Linked DNA regions of Homo sapiens. The protein of the gene in region 1 interacts with the protein of each later gene in a pairwise test. Each region holds a gene or a part of one and is shown on either strand. Other genes may lie near its edges.

Region 1 (3,812 bases):
TACAATTTTGCTGCTTTCTATATTAAAAGCCTCTTTGGGTAATTTATATTTTAAAAAAAATTCCTAATTATCTCAATAAAGTTTGTTTTTCTTGGGTCTTTAAGAATTTAGAGAGAATTAAAATAGTTTTGTGTTTAATAGCTCTGATTCTGGAATCGGTCAATTAAGGTTGTAACATTTAACATCTAGGACATCCAGGAAAAATTAACCTCTCTGAGCCTCTGTTTTCTTTTCTATAAAATGATGTGGGACCCACATCATCAGGTTGTTAAAAAAAAAAAAAGTTATATGAAGCACTTTCCATAGTACCTTGCACAATAGAAGTTAGCTATTACTATTTTTATTTAGATTTTGTGGTTTGTTCTTTGTAAATCAGAATCATAGCATTTTAGAGCTAGAAGAAACCCTTGGTGATCATTTGATCTAGCACCCTTATCTTTCATATGAAGCCTGGAGAAAGAGCAAAAGCTGGCTTTTGAGGTTTGGTGGCAAGTTGATGGTGGACCTCTAAAGAGTTCCGTCTGCCTTGGGGCAGGGGGAGGGGTGCAAGATTGTGTTGCTGTTATTATATTGTTTTGTTCTTACTTCTCTTTAATGATTCTTTACTCACATTTAAACTATTAAGTTGTTTCCATTTTTATTTATGCAATGATTTTATCACCATAGTAGGTTGGCATGAATACATTTTCTTCTTTGCTTACCTTAGCTAGCTTCCTTCCCACTCGGAAAGATAAGTCCATCACACCCAAAAAGATAAGTCTGCAGTATTATAGATGATGCTTTTGTGTTCAGCAGTGTAAGACAAAAAGCTTATGGTCTTTAATGGTTTTATGCTGATCTTACTCTTCTGGTAACTTTCTGTGACGTTAAGACATTGCTTCCAGCAGTAGTGGAGCGTGCCTCATGTTTTGAGTGCTGATTAAGTGAAGGCCTTCTGATCCATCTACAAAGCAGTAGTGGTTACAATAAGGATAGCAATATTTTTATCTCTGTTCTCTCTTGTATTGTAGAGCCGACAGTTAGAATCAGAAACTGGGACCACAGAGGAGCACAGTCTAAATAAGGAAGCTCGAAAATGGGCCACACGTGTGGCACGTGAGCATAAAAACATTGTTCACCAACAACGGGTAAGTGTAAGAGAAAGTCCTAGTTACATTCACCTTAAGCCAAATGTCAAACAGTTTAAGGAACTGAGTTTTATTAATGTGAAAAATATCCTATATGTGTTGTTTTGTTTTATTTGAGACAAGAGGCTTGCTCTGTCACCCAGGTTGAAGGGCAGTGGTGTGAACATGGCTTACTGCAGCTTCAACCTCCTGGGCTGAAGCAGTTCTCCCACTTCAGCCTCCCAAGTAGCTGGGACCACAGGCACATGCCACTATGCCTGGCTAAATTTTTTTAGATTTTTTGTAGAGATAGGGTCTTGCCATGTTTCCCAGGCTGGTCTCAAACTCCTTTGCTCAAGCATTATATGTGTTTTTTCTGTACTTTCTCAACACTCAGCAGTGTGCTGTCAGCTATCTACTCATGTTGGAATTTCCTTAAGCCCTCCATCAGCAATACATTAATTTACCTGTTTACCATAAAATTAACAAAGAAAATTGTGATAGTGTATTATGGGCAGGGGAAGAGACATATGTTGAATTAATATAAGTTTTCATCCCTCAAGACATATTTTTTAAAAGACATAATTATAGCCGGGCGCGGTGGCTCACGCCTGTAATCCCAGCACTTTGGGAGGCCGAGGTGGGTGGATCACAAGGTCAGGAGATCGAGACCATCCTGGCTAACATGTGTTACGGTGAAACCCCATCTCTACTAAAAATACAAAAAATTAGCCGAGTGTGGTGGCGGGCACCTGTAGTCCCAGCTACTCGGGAGGTTGAGGCAGGAGAATGGCATGAACCTGGGAGGCGGAGCTTGCAGTGAGCTGAGATCACGCCACTGCACTCCAACCTGGGCGACAGCGAGACTCTGTCTCAATAAAAAGAAAAAAGAAAGACACAATTATAGATTTCATGAAAATATATGTTTGGCTGGGCGCAGTGGCTCACGCCTGTAATCCCAGAACTTTGGGAGGCTGAGGCAAGTGGATTGCTTGAACCAGGAGTTTGAGACCAGCCTGAGCAACATGGCAAAAAACCCGGTGTCTACAAAAAATTCAAAAATTAGTCGGGCATGGGGGCGCACACCTATCTTCCCACCTATTCGGGAGGCTAAGGTTGGGGAGAATTGCTTGAGCCCGGGAGGTGGAGGTTACATTGAGGTAAGATCATGCCTCTGAACTCCAGACTGGGTGACAGAGAAAGACCCTGTCTCCAAAAAAAAAAAAGAAAGAAAGAAAGAAAGAAAATATATCTCGAAGACTAAACTCTAAGCACAAAGAAATTATTTGGAGTATAGTACTTTTTTTCTGTTTCATTTATTGATACCTATATCCGTCTCATTCTTTGCCTTCACATCCTGCTTCTTAAAAGAATTGCCTATGCTTATTATCTATAGAATCTCACCTCCCACTTACTTTTTAGCCCATTACATTTGAGCTTTCCTGTCCTTTCCTTCCCCTGTCTAAGCTTACCAAAATCGCCAATGATGTCTGTGTTGCTAGCTTCCAAGTGGACACTTTGATTTCTCATTTTTCTTAATCTGTCAACAATTTCATCACAATTAACAATTCCATGTCTTAAAATGTTATCTTCTCTAGTCATCCACGATTCAACATTGTCCTGGCTTTCCTTCTGCCTTTCTGGCCATACCTAGATTTTTTCATGGGTTCCTCTTTCTCCATCCCACAATGAAATATTCAGTTTCTCAGATTCCTATACTTGGCTATCTTGTTTTCTTATTCTTTACCCTCATATAGGCATTCTCAGTCACTTCCATGGTTTTACTTTACCACCAAATCATAAATTAACATCTTCAACATTGGGCCTTGCTACTACTGTGTATCCATATAATCTCTTGCCTGTTTTGACATCTTCTTTTCACTATCTCACAGGTGTCTCAAATTCAGTGTTCCACTTATGTAATGTTGCTTAACAAACCACCTCAAACTTAATGCCATAGAACAAGAGGGTTTTTACATTATCTCTCACTAATCTGAGTATTGGATGGTCTCAGCTTAGCAGTTTCCCTTGGGGTCTCTCATGTGGCGGCAATCAGATAGTGGCTGGTCCTGGCTTCCCCACTGAAGGGACTGTCTGTAGTAAGTTTGTTACTAGTAAGTCTATAATTATTTCAAAATGTTCAAAAAATAAATAAATGAAAAAAAATTATGGCTACTAGTCACTAAAGCCCTTTGAATTATGTAAATACTTTAATCACTTAAGGAAGATGAAAAGTAAAAAACAGTCATCATTATTGTCCCATTTTCTTTAATAGGTTCTAAATGATCTGGAGTGTCATGGAGCTGCTGTATCAGAACAAAGCCGAGCAGAGCTAGAACAGAAAATAGATGAAGCTAGAGAAAATATTCGTAAAGCAGAGGTAAGGTGGCAGCTAATTGTGGCATTTTGCCCAGGTCTAATGACACTGTCACAGCTGTGATATACATCTTTAAAACTGAGTTTCTACACACACTGAGATGAAGGTGATTCACCGTCTTCATTCGTGTCCACAGTAGTATTTGTTGAGTACCTGCTCTGTGGAAGGCAGTACATATAACAAAAAGATGCTGTAAAGTTTACAGTCATGAAACATTAAATACAAAAGATTTAAGTCACAATGAAGATACTAATTTTAAAGTTTCTAAAAGGTACATAATAAACCACAGAGATTAATGGTAGAAAAAATGATGTATATATATCAATTTA
Region 2 (3,812 bases), on another chromosome or scaffold:
AGGAGAACCTATCACTGTTCTCAGGGCTCTTAGTCGGGGGATAAAAGCTCGGGGCAACTGCAGCCCACTCTGTAGGGGCCACAAGAGAACCCCATTCAACACAGGTGCTGGCAGGATACCCCATTGAGCTGGACAAGCTGCAGAACCTCGTGGTCAACTACTGCTCAGAGCTGTCGGATATGAAGATCATGTCCCAAGATGCCATGATGATCACGGATGAGGTCAAGGTGAGCTCAGGGCCCAGGGCTGGGGGCCCCCCAGGGCCAGCCCTCTTGGATCTTCGGATGGGGTCAAGGTGAGCTCAGGGCCCAGGGCTGGGGGCCCCCCAGGGCCAGCCCTCTTGGATCTTCGGATGGGGTCAAGGTGAGCTCAGGGCCCAGGGCCGGGGGCCCCCCAGGGCCAGCCCTCTTGGATCTTCGGATGGGGTCAAGGTGAGCTCAGGGCCCAGGGCTGGGGGCCCCCCAGGGCCAGCCCTCTTGGATCTTCGGATGGGGTCAAGGTGAGCTCAGGGCCCAGGGCCGGGGGCCCCCCAGGGCCAGCCCTCTTGGATCTTCGGATGGGGTCAAGGTGAGCTCAGGGCCCAGGGCTGGGGCCCCCCAGGGCCAGCCCTCTTGGATCTTCGGATGGGGTCAAGGTGAGCTCAGGGCCCAGGGCTGGGGGCCCCCCAGGGCCAGCCCTCTTGGATCTTCGGATGGGGTCAAGGTGAGCTCAGGGCCCAGGGCTGGGGCCCCCCAGGGCGGGCTCTCTTGTGTCTTCTGGCCAGGGTCTCTCAGGAGACCCCCATGCCCACACTGCCTACAATCCCCAGAAGGATCCAGTGGCCAGCCCGGCCAGCCTGCTCTGCTCACCCACTGGACAGAGCAGGTCCCATCCAGCACAGGAGCCATGAAGTAGAGGAGAGGGAGAGAACTGGCCGGGCCAGGGCGGGGGTCACCTATTCACCCAGTCTGTGCCAAGGTCCCTGCAAGGCTCTGGGGATACAGCAGGGACCGGGACAGGCAGACCCTGTCCTCCTGAAGTGGGTGGCACTCATCCAGTAGTCCATGAAGAAATGCCACACAGCCCCTGAGCCAGCTCAGCAGAGACAGGTGGGGTGGCAGATGGCTTTCCAGGAAGACAGTGCTTGAGCTGGGCTGAGGGATTGAACCCGCAAAGGTCAGGTGTGGCCAGGGCTAGGGAGGAGGAGGTACAACTTGGGAAAAGGCCCTGGGCTGGGAGGGGTGTGATACATGGAGCAGCGTGTGGCCAGGGCAGTGGAGGCTGCAGAGGCACAGGCCCCAGGAGTCCACGGAGGCGGCTGGGCTGGGGGCCCAAGGACTGACCTGGAGCCCTGGGAGGAGGTGGAGGAAAGATGTGACCAGGTCTGTGCTTCAGAAAGGGTGTACTCAGGCTGCAGGGACTGGAAGGTGCCAGGGCAGAAGCGCTGATCACCTGGGTATACCCGGGGTGGAGAAGGGGTGGCCAGGAGCAACGGAGCTGAGAACTCCTCAAGAGGCAACCCCACTAAGCGCTGGCAACGAGAGTGGCGAGGGTGAGAGCAGTGTCTGGGGTGCGTGAGCAGGGGTTAGCAGATGACGGTTTTAGCTGCCCAAGGGCACGCTGGAAGAGGCCAGGTTTTGGGGAAGAGGATGAATCTGTCTTCAGGCAGGCTGAATGCACTTCCGTGAGTTCTAGGTGGACCTGGCCAGGAGGCAGCTGGGGGCCAGCGGCTGGAGGGCAGCAGAGCGTCTGGGCTGGCACATGCTCTGAGGCATGGGCAAGGAGGGCCGTGAGCTGAGGGGCCACGGGCACAAGTGGTTTAGGAAAAGGGTGTGGCCATTGGCCGGGGATGCAGTTCCAAAGTCTAGTAAGGTGAGCATGGCCAACCGCCCGCTGGCTTTACTGCCATTAGGGGCCTTGTTGAGACAGCTCCCCAACCCTGTGCCCACCCGCATGTCCCCAGAGGAACATGAGGCAAAGGGAGGCGTCCTTCATCGAGGAGCGCCGGGCAAGGGAGAACCGGCTCAACCAGCAGAAGAAGCTGATCGACAAGATCCACACGAAGGAGACCAGCGAGAAGTACCGCCGGGTAAGCCCCAGGCCAGGGCCTGGCTGGCTGCCCATCCCCATGACAGCTGGGTGGACACAGGCTCAGGGCCACCACTCAGGGCCCACTCCCTGCCAAGGATGTCTCATCCCTTCCCCGCCCCCACCTCCCATCAGGGCCAGATGGACTTGGACTTCCCCTCGAACCTGATGAGCACGGAGACCCTGAAATGTAAGCGCTCAGCTCCCCACCTGCCCCCAGCCAGGGTCCCAAGGAGAGGCTGGCACTGATTCAGGCCAACGGATCAAGTCACCCTGAGGCCAGGTGTGACATGTGGTCGCCAGGGTGAAGGGAAGGACAGGTCCCTGCCTCTCCCTCCAGAGGCTGAGAGCCTGTAGCCAAATGTGGCCTCAGAGATGCTGGCCCCAGCACCCAAGGGCCCTGCACCAAGGGCCCAGTCCCCAGTGACTCTGCAGAGGATGAGCATCCTGACCCCTAAGCTGCCTCTGAGAAGCACCACCGGGCCCACAGTGCTCACAGTGCTGCGCCACTCACTCCGGGTCCACCTCTGCTCTGGGGCTGCCTGGGGCGTCCCTGCAGGGCTGGGCTGAGGAGGGAGCAGGTTGGGGCGGGGGCAGGCATCTCTGAAGGATGCCTGTGTCTTGGGTGGCCGCCCCAGCAGCTGGGCAGGTACAGAGGTGTCTGACAGCCTTACACAGAGCCCCTGAGCCATCCCTGCATGCTGACTGCCCCTCCCCTCTGCTCTGCCAGTGAGGAGAAAAGAGACCTCCACAGCAGAAATGGAATACCAGTCGGGCGTGACTGCTGTGGTGGAGAAGGTCAAGAGTGCTGTACGGTGCTCTCACGTCTGGGTAATGCCCCTGGCGCTCCCAGAGAATGGCAGGAGGGTGGCTGAGCCTCTCACGTCTGGGTAATGCTCCCTGGCACTCCCGGAGCATGGCAGGAGGGTGGCTGAGCTGGGCTGGGGTCTGAGGCACTCTGAAATGGACACACAAAGTGGCAACTCCCTCGGCCGCCCCAAATCCTTTTATCTTAATCCCATCTGTGTATCTGCGTTTATTATTATTAGGCCTTGAGCTCCTAACCACTGCCCTGACACAAGCTTGTCCACTGTCAGACAAGTGACTCAAGTGACACAACGTCCTTCAGTGATGATCTCCTTATCTCTACATGGGGTTATCTACCCTCTCTGCCTGCCATTAGGGTCGTGTGCAATGACATCCACAAAGCGCTTCACCCCTGCTAAGTGTGGTGGTGCACACCTGTGGTCCCAGCTACTCAGGAAGCTGAGGTGGGAGGATCGCTTGAGTCTGGGAGGTTGAGGCTGCAGTGAGCTGTGATCACACTTGTGAATGAGCACAGAGAAAGTGCACTAGCGTCTAGGAGGGGCCCAGAAGAAACCAGTTCTGTGAAGCCCCCTCTGCCCACCATCCTGGCCCACACCTGCTTCTCTCTCCCCCGGACTGGCCAGGACATCACTAGCCGCTTCCTGGCCCAGAGGAACACGGAGGAGAACCTGGAGCTGCAGATGGAGGACTGTGAGGAGTGGCGGGTGCAGCTGAAGGCCCTGGTGAAGCAGCTGGAGCTGGAGGAGGCCGTGCTCAAGTTCCGCCAGAAGCCTAGCTCCATCAGGTGCCCCGGGCTTCCGGGGCTGCGGGCCACCCACCCCAGTCTCACAAAGGCCCCGGGCTGCAGCCAGGCTGGGAGCTGGGAGTATACCCACTGCCAACAAGCCTGTGTGTCCCACAGAGGGGCCAGGGGACTC

Evidence for each region.
Region 2: the proteins of FCHSD2 (region 1) and CCDC183 interact in a two-hybrid assay, tested with the Homo sapiens proteins (one large-scale study listed by BioGRID).

What each region holds. Positions count from the first base shown.
Region 1 is NC_000011.10:72,887,144-72,890,955, reverse strand, and holds part of FCHSD2 (F-BAR and double SH3 domains protein 2), read left to right. Parts: intron 1-1,010; coding exon 1,011-1,127; intron 1,128-3,381; coding exon 3,382-3,486; intron 3,487-3,812. UniProt on the Homo sapiens protein: Adapter protein that plays a role in endocytosis via clathrin-coated pits. Contributes to the internalization of cell surface receptors, such as integrin ITGB1 and transferrin receptor.
Region 2 is NC_000009.12:136,802,560-136,806,371, forward strand, and holds part of CCDC183 (coiled-coil domain-containing protein 183), read left to right. Parts: intron 1-104; coding exon 105-227; intron 228-1,367; exon of another isoform or gene 1,368-1,942; coding exon 1,943-2,068; exon of another isoform or gene 2,069-2,202; coding exon 2,203-2,257; exon of another isoform or gene 2,258-2,797; coding exon 2,798-2,898; exon of another isoform or gene 2,899-3,025; intron 3,026-3,490; exon of another isoform or gene 3,491-3,518; coding exon 3,519-3,679; intron 3,680-3,812.